Linked DNA regions of Homo sapiens: all the other regions are linked to region 2. Evidence: fine-mapped expression QTL. A gene starts in region 2. Each other region holds a variant in brackets. All regions are shown on one strand. Distances are from middle to middle.

What was found. PIP is the estimated chance that this variant, and not a neighbour inherited with it, causes the effect.
Region 1: its variant is fine-mapped to the expression of CDC37 in whole blood (TOPMed, PIP 0.94).
Region 3: its variant is fine-mapped to the expression of CDC37 in whole blood (TOPMed, PIP above 0.99).

What each region holds. Positions count from the first base shown.
Region 1 is chr19:10,123,649-10,129,619 of GRCh38, reverse strand. No RefSeq gene overlaps it. Among named protein-coding and RNA genes, the nearest start is that of EIF3G, 6.7 kb to the right of the region's middle. The variant T/C (reference allele first, on the strand shown) is at 3,111.
Region 2 is chr19:10,400,658-10,406,628 of GRCh38, reverse strand. It overlaps CDC37 (cell division cycle 37, HSP90 cochaperone), which reads left to right and starts at 3,087. Exons shown (of 8, transcript NM_007065.4): 1 at 3,087-3,251. The coding sequence starts at 3,150. MIR1181 (microRNA 1181) reads left to right here and starts at 3,091; the gene lies at 3,091-3,171. RefSeq lists silencers at 1,552-1,601, 3,312-3,371 and an enhancer at 2,562-2,911.
Region 3 is chr19:10,423,638-10,428,637 of GRCh38, reverse strand. All of the region lies in intron 1 of PDE4A (phosphodiesterase 4A), which reads right to left. Among named protein-coding and RNA genes, the nearest start is that of PDE4A, 5.6 kb to the right of the region's middle. RefSeq lists a silencer at 229-298 and an enhancer at 2,790-2,869. The variant G/A (reference allele first, on the strand shown) is at 2,222.

The DNA.
Region 1 (5,971 bases), 280 kb after region 2:
TATATATATTTTAGAGGCAGGATCTTGCTCTGTTGCCCAGGCTGGAGTGCAGCGATGTTCTACTGCAGCCTTGATCTCCTGGGCTTAAGTGATCCTCCTGCCTCAGCCTCCTGAGTAGCTGGAACTACAGGCGCATGCCACCATGCCCAGCTAAGTTTTACATTTTTTTTGTGGAGATGGGGTCTCACTGTGTTGCTCAGGGTGGTCTCAAACTCCTGGCCTCACGTGATCCTCCCACCTCAGCTTCTGTAGTAGCTGGGACCACAGGCATGTGCCGCCATACCCAGCTAATCATTATTTTTATTTTTATTTATTTTTGAGACGGAATCTCACTCTGTCACCAGGCTGGAGTACGGTGGTGCGATCTTGGCTCACTGCAACCTCTGCCTCCTGGGTTCAAGCTATTCTCATGCCTCAGTCTCCCGAGTAGCTGGGATTACAGGCCTGCCACCAGGCCTGGCTAATTTCTATGTTTTTAGTAGAGATGGGGTTTCGCCATGTTGGCCAGGCTGGTCTCAGACTCCTGGGCTCAAGCGATCTGCCTGCCTCGGCCTCCCAAAGTGCTGGGATTACAGACATGAGCTACCATGCCTGGTAGCTGATTTTTATATTTTTTTATAGACAGGATCTCGCTTTGTTGCCCAGGCTGGTCTCAGAATCCTGGGCTCAAGCGATCTACCTGCCTTGGCATCCCCAAATGCTGGGATTATAGGCATGAACCACTGCGCCTGGACAAGAATATATTAACTATACTCACTATGTTATACAATAAATCTCTTAGAAAGCCTTTATTTGAACTTTTTTTCTTTATATTGTTTGGAAACAACTACAGTCTCAAGAGCAGTAGATTGAATTGTGATGCAGGTCAGGCCTTTGTATCCAAGGGTTCCACCTCTGGCATTCAACCAACCACAGATTTAAAATATTCAGAAAAATTCCACAAAGTTCCAAAAAGCAAAACTTGTATTTGCCACTTACCAAGTACTACATGGAATCCATGAGAATAAAGCAACGTGTAGACGTTATGTCAGGTATTACAAATAATCTAGAGACGACATAAAGTACACAGGAGAGGCCGGGCGCAGTGGGTCATGCCTGTAATCCCAGCACTTTGGGAGGCCAAGGTAGGAGGAACACTTGAGGCCAGGAGTTCAAGACCAGCCTGGCCAACATGGCGAAACACCTTCTCTACAAAAAATAACAAAAATTTGCTGAGCATGGTGGCACACACCTGTAGTCCCAGCTACTCCAGAGGCTGAGATGGGAGGATCACTTGAGCCCAGCAGGTGGAGGTTGCATTAAGCCGAGATTGCACTAGCCTGGGTGACAAAGCAAGACTCTGTCAAAAAGTAGTGTACACAGGAGAATATGTGTAGCGTATATGCAAATACTATGCCATTTTATTTTATTTTATTTTATTTTATATTTGAGACAGAGTCTCACTCTGTCGCCCAGGCTGGAGTGCAGTAGCACAATCTTGGCTCACTGCAACCTCTGCTTCCCGGGTTCAAGTGATTCTCCTGCCTCAGCCTCCCAAGTAACTGAGATTACAGGCATGTGCCGCCACGCCCGGCTAATTTTTTTGTATTTTTAGTAGAGACGGGGTTTCACCATGTTGGTCAAGCTGGTCTTGAACTCCTGACCTCAAATGATCCACCCGCCTCAGCCTCCCAAAGTGCTGGAACTACAGGTGTGAGCCACCATGCCCGGCCTATGACATTTTATATTAGGGATTTGAGCACATTCTGATTTTGGTACCACATGGGGTCCTAGAACCAATCCCCTGGGGATACCGAGGGATGGCTGGACATAGATTTGTATACACATGTGTATCCACGTCTAGGCTACTTTTCTAGGAGTTGAATGACTGGATTGAAACTTTAGAACTGGCACAGCCGCTAAAAGTCAAGCAGGTGTTTTATAGGGATTTCATTAACTTTGCAGACTTCTGGAAGAATTGACATGTTAATGACAAGCCTTCCTTTCTAAGAACAGGGTTTGTCCTGTTTGTTCAGGAATTCCTTTGTGTCCACAGCTTTTCATCCAGATCTTGCAGACTTCATAACTTGATTCCTAAGTATTTAGTCCCTTCATTACTAATATAAATGGGATGTTTTCTTGATTTCTAAACCATGGTCCTTTGCCTATGGAGAGATGCTCCATTTGTATTGGCTGTGATTTTGTAAACTGTGTTTTTTGAATCTAACCAACTTGTTGAATTCCTTTTTTTTTTTTTTTTTGGAGATGGAGTCTCACTCTGTCACCCAAGCTGCAGTGCAGTGGCGCGATCTCTGCTCACTGCAACCTCCATCTTTGGGTTCAAGGGATTCTCTTGCCTCAGCCTCCTGAGTAGCTGAGATTACAGGCATGGGCCATCACACCCAGCTAATGTTTGTATTTTTAGTAGAGATGGGGTTTCACCATGTTGGCCAGGCTGGTCTTGAACTCCTGACCTCGGGTGATCCGCTTGCCTCAGCCTCCCAAAGTGCTAGGATTACAGGTGTGAACCACCGCGCCTGGCCTGAATTTCCTTGTTTTTAATCCCACTTTTTCAGTGGTCACATTTTCAGGTATACGATCCTTCACCAAGAACAACTTGAGGATGTATTTTGGTGTAAGAATTAGAAACCTTGTCTTTTCTTTTTAGAGACAGGGTCTTGTTCTTTCACCCAGACTGGACTGCAGTGATGCGATCATAGCTCACTGCAGCCTCGAACTCCTTCGCTCCAGAGATCCCCCAACCTCAGTCTCTGGAGTAGCTGGGACTACAAGTATGTACCATCACGCCTAACTAATTTTTATTTTTATTTTTAGTAAAGATGAGTTCTTGCTATGTTGCCCAGGCTGGTCTCAAACTCCTGGGCTCCAATGATCGTCCCTCCTCATCCTTCCAAAGTGCTGGGATTACAGGTGTAAGCCACCGTGCCTGGCTTCTTTTTTTTTCCTTTTAATATATGATTATTTTTTGTAAAGATGGCGTCTCACTCTGTTGCCCAGGCTGGTCTCCAGTGATTTCAATTCTTGTAAGTATAAAGCAGATGTGGAAGTGCTGGGTCATTTGGTGGTTCTATTTTTAATGTTTTGAGGAACCACCATACCATAGTTCATAG[T/C]GGAAGGCTGTTTTTTAAATGAAATAAACATGTAAGGCTGAGGTGCCCATCTACTTCCCTAGAAAAACCACAGTAAGGACATTGCCACGTCTCCTTTCTGCCCCTGTTTTTTGGCTGTTACCACATCTGCATGTCCATCAATTTAGTATTTCTTTCTTTTTATCTCTATTTACTTTTTTTTTTTTTTTGAGATGGAGTCTCTGTTGCCTAGGCTGGAGTGCAATGGCGCAATCTTGGTTCGCTGCAACCTCCGCCTCCTGGGTTCAAGTGATTCTCCTGCCTCAGCCTCCTTAGTAGCTGGGATTACAGGCACGCACCACCACGCCCAGCTGTTTTTTTTTTTTTTCTTTTGAAACAGAGTTACCTTCTCGTTGCCCAGGCTGGACTGCAATGGCAGGATCTCGGCTCACCACAACCTCTGCCTCCTGGGTTCAAGCGATTCTCCTGCCTCAGCCTCCTGAGTAGCTGGGATTACAGGCATGCGCCACCACGCCCAGCTAATTTTGTATTTTTAGGAGAGACAGGGTTTCTCCATGTTGGTCAGGCTGGTCTCGAACTCCCAACCTCAGGTGATCCACCTACCTTGGCCTCCCAAAGTGCTGGGATTACAGGCGTGAGCCACCATGCCTGGCCACACCCAGCTGATTTTTGTATTTTTAGTAGAGATGGGGTATCATCATGTTGGCCAGGCTCGTCTCGAACTCCTGACCTCAAGTGATCCTCCCACCTCGGCCTCCCAAAGTGCTGGGATTACAGGTGTGAGCCACCGCGCATGGCCTATTTTTATTTTTTTTTACAAAGTCTTGGCCGGGTGCGGCGGCTCACACCTATAATCCTAGCACTTTGGGAGGCCAAGACAGGCGAATCACCTGAGTTTGGAGTTCAAGACTAGCCTGGCCAACATGGAGAAACCCCGTCTCTACTAAAAATACAAAATTAGCTGGGCATGGTGGCACATGCCTGTAATTCCAGCTACTAGGGAAGCTGAGGCAGGAGAATCACTTGAACCCGGGAGGTGGAGGTTGCGGTGAGCTAAGATCATGCCACTGCACTCCAGCCTGGGCAACAAGAGCAAAACTCCATCTCAAAAAAAAAAAAGGAGTCTCACTCCATCGCCCAGGCTGGAGTTCAGTGGCGCAGTATTGGTTCATGGCAACCTCTGCCTCCCGGGTTCAAGGGATTGCCATGCCTCAGCCTCCCGAGCAGCTGGGATTACAGATGCCTGCCACCACACCTGGCTAATTTTTGTATTTGTAGTAGACAACAGGGGTTTCGCTATGTTGGCCAGGCTGGTCTCGAACTCCTGACCTCAAGGGATCCGCCCACCTTGGCCTCCCAATGTGCTGGGATTACAGACGTGATCCACTGTGCCCAGCAGAAACAGGACCTTTAGAGAGAAAATTAAACCCAGGTGTGGTGGCTTATGCCTGTAATCCCAGCACGTTGGGAGGCCGTGGCAGGCAAACCACTTGAGATCAGGAGTTTGAGACCAGCCTGGCCAACTTGGTGAAACCCCGTCTCTACTAGAAATACAAAAATACAAAAATTAGCCAGGTGTGGTGGCACATGCCTGTAGACCCAGCTACTCGGGAGGCTGAGGCAGGAGAATCACTGGAACCCAGGAGGTGGAGGTTGCCATTAGCTGAGATTGCACCACTGCACTCCAGCCTGGACTACAGAGTGAGACTTCACCTTTAAAAAAAATAATTAAAAAAAAAAAGTTTAAATGAGGTCATTAGGGTGGGCCCTAATCCAATATGACTGATGTCCTTAGAAGAAGAGATTGGGACATAGACACACACAGAGGAGGCCACGTGAGGACCGAGGGAGAAGGTGCCCCCACCTCAGAAGAAACCAACCCTGCCGACACTGTGATCTTGGACTTCCAGCCTCCAGAACTGAGAAAATAAATGTGTGCTGTTTAAGCCTCCTAGTCTGTGATATTTTGTTGTGAAAATGTGAGAAAAAGTAACTAATGTTAAGCTGGGTTTGCTCAATTCTGCTTTCCAGCGTAATTTCACAAAGCCCCTGACTCTGAGACACGTGAGACACGTCTGCGCAGCTCTACAGAACAAGGCTTTGAAGACAAAACAGGACAGAGCACAGGGCACACCATGTCCCTTGCCCGAGTCACTATATTCCTTAAATGAGTCTGGGCACGGTGGTTCATGCCTGTGATCCCAGCATTTTGGGAGACCAGGGCAAGGGCATCACCTTAGCCTGGGGAGGTTGAGGCTGCAGTGAGCTGTGATCGTGCCACTGCACTCCAGCCTGGGTGACAGAGAAAGACCCTGTCTCAAAAAAAAAAAAAAAAAAAAAAAGGCGTGCCAGGTGCGGTGGCTCATGCCTGTAATCCCAGCACTTTGGGAGGCCCAGGCAGGCGGATCACCTGAGGTCGGGAGTTCGAGACTACCCTGACCAATATGGAGAAACCCCCGTCTCTACTAAAAATACAAAATTAGCCGGGTGTGGTGGTGTGCATGCCTGTAATCCCAGCTACTCAGGAGGCTGAGGCGGGAGAACCGCTTGAACCCAGGAGGCGGAGGTTGCAGTGAGCTGAGATCGCACCACTGCACTCCAGCCTGGGCAATAGAGCAAGACTCCGTCCCCCAAAAAAAAAAGAAAAAAGAAAAAAAGGACCTGGGCCGGGCACGGGTGGGTCACACCTGTAATCCCAGCACTTTGGGAGGCCAAGGTGGGCGGATCACAAGGTCGGGAGATCAAGACCATCCTGGCTAACACGGTGAAACCCCATCTCGACTAAACATACAAAAATTAGCTGGGCGTGGTGGCGGGTGCCTGTAGTCCCAGCTACTCAGGAGGCTGAGGCAGGAGAATGGCGTGAACCCAGGAGGCGGAGC
Region 2 (5,971 bases):
GAGTGCAATGGCACTATCTCAGCTCACTGCAACCTCTGCCTCCCGGGTTCAAGCCATTCTCCTGCCTCAGCATCCTGAATAGCTGGGACTACAGGCGTGTGCCACCATGCCCAGCTAAGGATTTATTTTTTGTTTTTATTTTTTTTTAGAGATGGGTGTCGCTGGGATCCTCCAGCCAGCCTCCCGAGTAGCTGGGACTACAGGCTCACACCAGGGTGCCACGCTCATTCAACATTTATTGAGCACCTACTGTGTGCCAGGCACTGTTCTAGACCTGATCCTGCCCTCATGAGCTCAGACCCAAGGAGGAAGGCAGGCAGGATCCAGAAGTCTTACTTAATCTGTTTTTTGTTTTTTGTTTTTTTTTCTGACAGAGTCTTGCTCTGTCACCCAAACTGGAGTGCAGTGGTGTGATCTTGGCTCACTGCAACCACCGCCTCCCGGGTTTAAGCAATTCTTCTGCCTCAGCCTCCCGGGTAGCTGGGATTACAGGCGCCTGCCACCACGCCCGACTAATTTTTGTATTTTTAGTAGACATGGGGTTTCACCATGTTGGCCAGGCTGGTCTCGAACTCCTGACCTCAAGTGATCCGCCTGCCTCGGCCTCCCAAAGTGCTAGGATTACAGGCGTGAGCCACTGTGCCCAGCTTCTCCTTTAATCTTGAGTGCCTTTCCCTAGTCTCTCTCTGTCCGAGGACAGAATTTTAGTCTTCACAGTCTGAAATCACCCGCGGGGATTTGTATGTTTATACAGGGATCCTGCTCCCTCACTAGCCAGGAGCAGGGACCCCTACTGGGTTTGTTGGTTGCTGCTGCCCCAAAGCCTGGTCACAGTGCCCAGTACATCGTAAGTAGACACTTGGGAAAGAGATGTGAAATGAGCTAATAAATAAAATGATGGCGCAAAAGCAGGCTCCGCGAGCACGATTTCGCGGAATCCTAGGTGTGTGTCATTACCCACTTTGCAGAGGAGGAAATTGAGACTCAGGAAGGCAAAGCCGCCTGCCGGGCCCCACCGCAGCTCAGTGGTATGTGGCTATGGGATGTAGCAGAAGAAGCAAAGGTAGCCCCAAAAAGCGTTCCCAATTCCCGCAAACCTCCCCCCCACACACACACACAGGCAGGAGAGACATAGCAGGGTTTGCACCGATGGGGGTGGGATGGGGACCGGGGACAGAGGGACAGTGCAAAGCAACTTAGGGGTCTCTCTCCTCAGTCCCCAGGGCTGGAGGTGCTGTGCTGGCAGATTAGGAAATGCTTGGGGTTGATGGGGAAGCTTCCGGCGCTCTATCCCCAGTTCTGGAAGCTGAGGCTCCGGGAACCCTGTTTTGCTGAAGCTGGGCAGCTCCAGTCTCCAGAGCCAGGAAGAGACCCCCGCGCCTATCCGGGAATCCCCGACATCTGGGATTCTCTCCAAACACCCCCAGGCTGATGACGGGGCCGAATCCCTAAAGGGCATACGGTGGGGGTGGGGGTACGACTTTCCTGGGGAGCCGGGGAACCCCCTACCTTCCTGGCCCCCTCCCACTGTGGCACCGTGTCCCCCTCCCCACCGCAGCTCGCAGCCCCAAGCTTACCTTGCGGGGGGCCTGGGGAGGGGATGCCCCGCCCTCCCTGGCCTGGGGGGCGGGAGGGGACGGGGGTGTCCAGACCCTTTGTTTGCTGGTGTGTGTGTGTATGTGTGTGTGCGATTGTGAGAGCCGCCGGGGTGTGGGTCCGTGCGCGCGCGTGCCCGGGCCGTGACGGCCACTGATGTGCTGGACTGCCAGGGTGGAGGGGAAGAGGGAGGGGTAGGAGATGGGGACTCCCCCGCCCCTGCCCGCCCACTCGCGGGTTTGAATGAAGCGCGAGGGGGAAGGGCGGCAGCGGGAGGACGTTTTTGTCCGATGGCCCTTCCCGCTCCATGCACCGGGGAATCCTCCCCCTTCTGGAGAACTTCGCTCGCTCTCTCCAGGCACTGCCTCCAACGTCGGCTCCAGGGGAGACTAGGAAGAGGCGCCCCTCACCGGAGTGGCTGGAGCTCCTCCTATCCAGCCTGACCCCCGAGGGAGCACCCTTTAATCTGAGATAATCCTGGCCCAAGGCTGCAACACGGCCTATTATCCTGGTATCAAAGCGTGGATTGGGATGCATGGAAGTGTGAGGTGGTCGAGGCCCTGCATGCTTAGAGTAATGGAGTCCTTAGAGCCCCGGCGGAGGAAGCGTACCCCAAGACGAACGGGGAGGGGCTATGCGTGGCCCCAGACTGTGACGACAAGGAAAGCCCCCTTCCACCCCTCCACGATTCCCCCCACCAAGCGCGGGGCCAGGAATACGCGCCGTGGGCTAGACTCTAGCGACACCCAGCGGCCAGCGGGGTGGGGAGCCGAGACCCGTTTTGAGGGGGTCCGGGTGATTCCAAAGTGTGTGTGTGTGTGTGTGTGCGTGTGTGTGTGTGTGTGTGTGTGTGTGCGCGCGCGCGCTCGCGCGAGTCCTCGCTGCGAATGGCAGGAGGTGGAAGACAAGGAGAAGGCTGTTGCCGAGGCGGGGAAACCCCAGCTCCCAAGGCAGGGCCACAGTCTCCCCTCCACGTTTAACCCTGCAAGGGGAGGGCCATACCACCCCCGATTTAGACACCCCCAGGGCAGGTCCAGTCCTCCTCGGGCTGAGAAAGTCCGAGGAGTCATCAGGCGCCCCTCTCCAGCGCAGGCTTAGGTCCCCGTTTACGAAGGGCAGGGGGAGGGCCTTCCCGCCGTGTCCCTACCCCTTGCAGACGTCACTGCGGCGTGGCTGAGGGGACAGTCCTCTCAGTCTCATCAACCGTCCCCTCCCTGCCACCCCAAACGCCCACCGTGGAGCGGCGGGAGATGAGGGGGGCTCGGAGTTGAAGCGCGCACTCATATGCCCCCAGGAGACCTAGCGGAGCCCCAGCGCCCGATGACGCGGAGTCTCTGCGGGAACTCCAGGGGGCCGGAACACTTACGCAGGGCCCTTTAAGGCTGGCTGGGTAGCTAGTGCCGCTGCCGCGGTTACTAGGGATGTGACGTCACACAGGGCGGGGTTTCCCGCGCTCGGCGGAAGCGGAAGGGGCGGGGCTCCGCGCTCCTAGTCTCCACTGCTGCCGCCGTCGCCGCCACCCGAGCCGGAGCGGGCTGGGCCGCCAAGGCAAGATGGTGGACTACAGCGTGTGGGACCACATTGAGGTGTCTGATGATGAAGACGAGACGCACCCCAACATCGACACGGCCAGTCTCTTCCGCTGGCGGCATCAGGTAAGGCGCGCGCGCCCATCCCTTTCCCCACTCCCGGACCCCGCTTCGGAGTTGTGATCCCCGATACTGCCCAGGGACCCCGCTGTTCACACCTAGGATTCTCACCCCCCCAGTCTGGATTTTCAGGAGCTTCGATTCAACTCCGGGACCCCAGTACCATTGGGACCCTGAGTCCCTGCCCTGGATCTCCGCTCCCCCACTCCCTGCTCCGATTTTTGCGTGGGATTCCCTATTCACCCCCTAGAACTTCTTCATAGTCTGGAGTCCCCTAGACGAGTCTTGGGGGTTCTCCCTAATTCTGTTCGGCAGTTAACATTTATACCCAGAACTCTGCCTCAAAGTTTGGACCCCAAATTCTTCTAGATGATCCCTCATCCTATTCGGGTATTCACTTCCTATCTGGGATCTCCCATCGCCCCCCCACCTCCGTAGTCTGGACCCCCAATACTTTGGTCTGTCCCGGGATCTACTTTCCGGGATCTTGATCCGGGGTTCCCATTCAGATCCGGAGTCGCCACTCCTTTTCTAAACGGAACAAGGAACTCTGTGCTACTCTGATATTCCTGTCCCTGCCCACACCCAGGACCCCCTTCCTAGAGTGTAGAACCGTCCCCCTTCAGGATCCTTAGTCTCACCGAGTACTTGGGTTTTGGAATCTGGTTCCCCTCTGGATCTAACTACCAGCTCCAACCCGATAGAGCCTCACATTCCAGCCTCTCCTTTGGCCTCCGGTAGACCCATTTCCCATTATACCAGGAAATCCTGCCCACGTGGCTTCCGGCCTAGCCAGAGCCCCTGCTCCTACTTGGTATTGCAGACCCTGTCACCACCCACTTCCCAGACTGGCTTCCTGTATGAGCCTCAGCCAGCATTGGAAACTCTCCCCTAACTCAAGCCCAGAACCCCAAACCCACCCCACCTTTTGTCCCCAGCCTGTTAGCTACTCTGTGACCCAAATTGTCCCTGCTCTTATCCAGGGACTCTCCTGGTCTGATTCTAAATTCACCACCCCTTCTTCTATCTGACCACAACAGAGGTCCCGAATCCAGACCCCAGAATCCCAAGCCTGGGTGATCCATGTCCCACCACCCTCTCAGTGCTCACGAGCCAATGGGATGACTAAGACTTAAAGGTTTAACCTCCTGCTACCCCAAATGAGTGTGCCTGCATTACATACCAGTGTCTGTTGTATTCCTTTTTTTTTTTTTTTTTTTTTTTTTGAGACGAAGTTTCCTTCTTGTCGCCCAGGCTGGAGTGCAGTGGCACAATCTTGGCTCACTGCAACCTCTGCCTCCCGGGTTCAAGTGATTCTCCTGCCTCAGCCTCCTGAGTAGCTGGGATTACAGGCATGATGCACCACCATGCCTGGCTAATTTTGTATTTTTGGTAGAGACAGGGTTTCTCCATGTTGGTCAGGCTGGTCTTGAACTTCCGACCTCAGTTGATCCACCCACCTCGGCCTCCCAAAGTGCTGGGATTACAGGCGTGAGCCACCGCACCCAGCCATGTTGTGCTCTTAAACGAAGGGCATATACCTCTCAGAACCTTCTAGTGAGGATCTCTTACCCCACCCTCCCATAGGGCAATTCCCCATCATTTATCCAGAAACAACTAGAAGGTCCCTTTCCCATCCTTCCAGAATACTCTGGAATACGGCATTAGTCTCTTCATCTAGCTCCCAGTCCCACTTCCAGACCTATTCCTTAAATCCTGAGTCTCCTGGGTAGTGTACCTGCCAAGCAAGCCACTGGAGTGTGGGAAGAAAGTTCTAGCGCTTCTATTTCTTGCCGTGTGTAACATTTTATTATGAAATATTTAAGACTTCCTCAAAGCTCCAAAGACTATTCTTGGGAAGACCTATTTCTGTCACATAAAGAGGTTAATCTTTACTACTGTGGAGAATGGTTTGGTCCTGCCGGGTGGGAGGGCCCCCCTCCTGCAGCGTAGTGTACCTGCCACACCCTCCTCCCTCTGGCACAGAGCTTTTCCTGTCCTGCCGCTGAGAACCCCGGTGGTTGTAGTGGCATGTAAGGGAGGCAGGGGGCTTCAGCGTCTCCAGCACAGGTTCAAGGACAGGCAAGCTTGGGTTCCAATCCTAGCCCCACCTCTTGCTGCTTCTTTCTTTCTTTGATGTGGCAAGACTCACAAGAAGCCTCCCTGAGCCCATGTGAAACCTGGGATAATATGGCCCCACCTCCCTGAGACCTTTGTAAGAATGAATTAAGACTGGGTCAGGAAAACTTGGGGCAGGTTTGGAAGGAAGCATTGTGGAGGGGAAGGAGAGATTGCTGTCGTTCAGAGCACAGGCCTGACTAGGTTCAAATCTCAGCTCTGTCTGTATCACTCACGTGCTGCGTGACTGCCAGGGAGCTGTTTGATCGCTCTGTGCCTCAGTTTCCCTACCTGAGAATCTGAATGATGTCCACCCCATAAGGTTGTTGTAAGGCTTACCTTATTCATTTAATATTTGTAATCCTTTTGGGGCAGTGGCTATTATCATCATCATCATTTAAATAATTTCTGTTCATGGTTAAAAAAAAAAAAATCTGTAGCCACATGTGGTGGCACATGCCTATAGTCCTAGCTACTCAGGAGACTGAGGCAGAAGGATCATTTGAGCCCAGAAGTTCAAGTCCAGCCTGAGCAACATAGCAAGACCTTGTCTCTCTCTTTTTTTTTTCGAGACAGGGCCTTGCTTTGTCACCCTGAGATGGCAGTGG
Region 3 (5,000 bases), 22 kb before region 2:
GGACACATAAAAAGCTCAGAAAAGTGTCTGAACCTAGTAAGCACTCAATATGAGCTACAGTTATTATCAGTATTTGACAAATATTTACTGAAGGCTTATAATATGCAAATCACTATACTAGCTAGAGGGTATAGATGATGATGATAATGACGATGATGGTGATGATAGCAACTAACCCTTTAGAAAGCTTCCTGTGCATCCAGTGCCTCTAGCTATGATCTCTCTCTCTCTCTCTCTCTCAATATCTCTCTCTCTCTCTCTCTCTCTCTCTCTCTCTCTCGAGACAGGATCTCACTCTGTCATCGAGGCTGGAGTACAGTGGCACGATCATAGCTCACTGCAGTCTCAACTTCCTGCGGTCAAGTGATCCTTCAACCTCAGCTTCCTGAGCAGCTAAGTAGCTGAGTAGCATGTGCGCCACCATGCCTGACTAATTTTTTGTACTTTTTCTAGAGATGGGGTTTTCCTATGTTGCCCAGGCTGGTCTTGAGCTCCTGGACTCAAGTGATCTGCCCGCCTTGGCCTCCCAAAGTGCTGGGATTACAGGCGTGAGCCACCACACTTGGTCTTATGATCTCATTTAATCCTCACAAAGTACCCACCAGACACCCACCAGGTGATATTCTTTTTTTTTTTTTTTTTTTGACAGGGTCTCACTCTGTCACCCAGACTGCAGTGCAAGTGACATGATATTGGCTCACTGCAACCTCCACCTCCCAGGCTCAAGTGATCCGCCTCCCTCTCAGCCTCCCAAAGTGTGTTGGGCATGAGCCACTATACCTGTCCCAGAAATGCATTTTTGTTCACCGACCAAGGTTTCAATGCCCTTAGCTTCCCTGAATTGTTTTGCCAGTTCGTCAGATCAGCCCTTGGGAATACGGTTTTTACTAGGCCCATTTCAGAGACGGGGAAGCCAAGGCCCAGAGAGGAGTGACTTGGCTAGGGTCTCCCAATCTAGAAAGATCAGAGCTGGATTATGGACCCAGCTGTCTGGCTTCAGAGACAGGAATTTTAGCCATGAGGCTACACAAGCCCTTTATGGATGAGTTTCCTTCCAGCCCAATGATGCTTGTCCCGTCCTAGGAAGCCAGATGTAAACTGAGGCCTAAAGCCAACCTTGATCATGGCCTAATGGTCTATGAGCCCTTACATGAGCTGCCTGTCACCTCGCTCCCTCCTTTTTTTCCACTGCCTCCTCGCTCACTCTGCCTCAGACACACTTGCCTCCAACGTATCAGACACACTCCCACCACAGGACCTCTGCACTGGCTCTTCCCTCTGGTTGGCACCCTCTTCCATCAGACACCCATGTAGCAACCTCCCTCTTTTGTTTTTTGTTAGACGGAGTCTTGCTCTGTCACCCAGGCTGAAGTGCACTGGCACGGTCTTGGCTCACTGCAACCTCCACTTCCTGGGTTCAAGCAGTTCTCCTGCCTCAGCCTCCTGAGTAGCTGGGATTACAGGCACTTGCCACTGCGCCCAGCTAATTTTTGTATTTTTAGTAGAGATGGAGTTTCAACATCCTGGCCAGACTGGTCTTGAACTCGTGACCTCGTGATCCACCTGCCTCGGCCTCCCAAAGTGCTGGGATTACAGGTGTGAGCCACTGCGCCCGGCCCTTACCTCCCTCATTTTATTTGGGTCTTTGTTCAAATGTCACCTCCTCAGAGAGGCCTTCCCTGACCTCAGGATCCCTCTTTTTTTCATATCCTATGTGTGACCATCTTGAATTATCATACAGCTTTACTTGCTATTTCTTTTTTTTTTTTTGAGACGGAGTCTGGCTTTGTCACCCAGGCTGGAGTGAAGTGGCGCAATCTCGGCTCACTGCAACCTCCGCCTCCTGGGTTCATGCAATCCTCCTCCCACCTCAGCCTCCCAAGTAGCTGGGATTGCAGGCGTGCGCCCAGCTAATTTTTGTATTTTTAGTAGAGACAGGGTTTTGCCAGGTTTTGGCCAGGCTGGTCTCGAACTCCTGGCCTCAAGTAATCCACCTGCCTTGGCCTCCCAAAGTGCTGGGATTACAGGCCTGAGCCACCGCACCCAGCCCTTTACTTGCTATTTCTGCTTCACCCTCTAGTCTGACAATTTCAGGGCAGCAGGGAATGTGTCTATGGCAAGGGTGTGCAATCTTTTGGCATCCCTGGGCCACACTGAAAGGCGAAGAATTGTCTTGGGCCACACATAAAATACACTAACACTAACAATAGCTAATGAGAGG[G/A]AAAAAAAAAAGAATCTCATTGTTTTAAGAAAGTTTACGAATTTGTGTTGGGCCGAATTCAATGCCATCCTGGGCCACGGGTTGGACAAACTTGGTCTACAGCATTCTCAGCCACAGTTCTGAAGGCGCTCAGTGTTTGTGGAATGAACGAATCTGCTAGAAATGAGGAGACTGAGGCTCTGACAGGTGAAGGTCACACAGCGAGTCCAGGACAAAAGCTGGATTTACTTCTTTTATTTTTTTCTTTTTGTAGAGATAGGGTCTCACCATGCTGCCCAGGCTGGTCTCAAACTCCAGCCTCAGGCAATCCTCCCACATCAGCCTCCCAAAGTGCTGGGTGTGAGCCACCTCGCCTGGCCAAAAGTGGATTTGAACTCTTTTCTTTCCTTCCTTCCCTCCTTCCTTTTTTTTTTTTTTTTTTTTTTTTTTTTTGACAGGGTCTCAGTCTCTCGCCCAGACTGGAGTGCAGTGGCCCAATCTCGGCTCACCGCAACCTCCGCCTTCCAGGCTCAACCAATTCTCCTGCCTCAGCCTCACCAGTAGCTGGGATTACAGGCATGCACCACTACCACCTGGCTAATTTTTGTATTTTTAGTAGAGACGGGGTTTCACCATGTTGGCCAGACTGGTCTCAATTTCCTGACCTCAAATAATCCACCCGCCTCAGCCTCCCAAAGTGCTGGGATTACAGGCATGAGCCACCGCGCCCAGCCAGATTTGAACTCTTTCATACTCCACAATGAAAAGAGTGGGCTCAGATGCCCTCACAATTCTGTTCTCACCCTGCCAGACTGTGGCTCTCCCAGGTCCAAAGCCCCAGTTTTCCTAAAGTCATAAGAGCCTGCAGTCAATCTGTTACCAATGAAATATGGGGCACCTTCCCCACCAGCCGGGTTTGCGGTTTGGGGGACGCCCCCTTTCTCTCTGCTGATGTCATTTGAGGAAGTACTTTCTCAGAACACCAGCTCCTGGCTGCCCAGCACCTACGTCAAACATATCAGCCTCACCACAGCCCTGGGGGTGGACAGTTCTTATTTTTCAGCCCCGTTTGACTGATGAGGAAACTGAGGCTCCGAGAGGCACAAGCACTGACCCCAAGTCACACAGCGAGTCAGCGGGCAGGGCTGCCATGTGAATGTTACCCAGCGGTCTGCAGTGGAGCAGATCTGTTTTTTGTTTTTTGTTTTTTTTTTTGAGACAGGGTCTCGCTCTGCTGCCAGGCTGGAGTGCAGTGGTGCCATCTCGACTCACTGCAACCTCTGCCTCCCGGGTTCAAGCGATTCTCCTGCCTCAGCCTCCCGAGTAGCTAGGATTACAGACGTGTGCCACCATACCCGGCTAATTTTTGTATTTTTAGTAGAAACGGGGTTTCACCATGTTGGCCAGGATGATCTTGAACTCCTGACCTCATTCGTGATCCGCCCACCTCGGTCTCCCAAAGTGCTCAGATTACAGAGCCACCGCGCCTGGCCGAGATCTGGTTTTTAACTCCTATTCTCACCTTCCTCGCTGTGTGACCTTGGGCAAGTCCCATGGTCTCTGTTTCCCGGGCAGGAAGCGCAGAGCCAAGGATGCTGGGGTTCACCGGCCTGCCGGGCAAGCGCGCAGAGGCGGGACGGGAACTCCACGGCTGCAACTTTTCGGCCAGGTTCCTCCCTGTCCTCCAGACGACAGTCCCCGCAGCGTGTGGCAGGGGCTGGCGCATGGGGAAAGCGGCCTGGTCCCAAGCCCGGGAGGGCGAGGACCCCACACGCAGCCTGCGGTCAGCCGGCCTGGCGCCCGCTCTCCAGGACGCTCAATAAGCATAAAATAATAATACCGGGCGCCGCGACGGTGGCGGCGACTTTGCTTTGCTCCGGGACTGGCGGCGTCCCTGGAGCAGGTCCGCGCTCGGAGCGCACACCCAGGCTGTGCCTTCCTCGTCGTCCAGCAGAGGGCGCGCGGGGAGACCCGCTCCCAACCCACATCCAGGGACTTGGGAGCGCCAGGGACAAGGGGGAGGCGAGGACCCAAGTGGAGACAGAGACCAGCGACCAGACGGATACCCCAGCTCGGCTGCCTCCACCTGCTCCTGGGGCCACACTGTGCCCCCACCTCGATGGGGAAGTTTTAGGGCCCAGGGAGGGGGGACGCAGGGTCCGTATGTTGGCCCCGTCCCCAGTTCAGACAGCTCCCCACCCCCACCACCAAAGTCCTCCTCTTCCTCCCTCTCCATCTGCCTCTTGACAGATCGTGGCTGTGCCGTGACTCAGCCGTCTCATACATCTTCAGGTCTGGAGGGGAGGTTTGGATGACATCTCCGGTTGGGGGTGGGCAGTGCCCTCTCTCTGGGGATTCCTTTGACCCAAATCGGGGGAGCTCGCTGGACTCCTTTTGCGGTAGCTGGATGAACTCCAGTGTGGGGAGCACTGAATCCTGTATGTGCCCTGGTAAAAACCCCCTTTTTGAAGAAATGCCTGTTCTAAGCATTGAGGTTGCCATCAGACACCTTCCTCCTTTTCCCTGGGAATGGGGGAGGACCCTGGCACTGATGCCAGCTACAGCCCACCCATCAGTCCCAGCTTTGGACCTCAGCACAGACACTGAAGGGTGCACAGGCCCACAGTGAAACAGAAACCCGAGTCTACGTGGGGATGTGGTTAAGGTTCCTGTTTTTTTCTACTCACCCTGGAGAAATGGGATCCACCCAGGTCCCCCCTCCTTAGTCCAGGTCCCTGAATGGAGATCTACTGATTATGTTAAGTCCTTTACACACATCTCCAAGCTCACAGAACCCTCA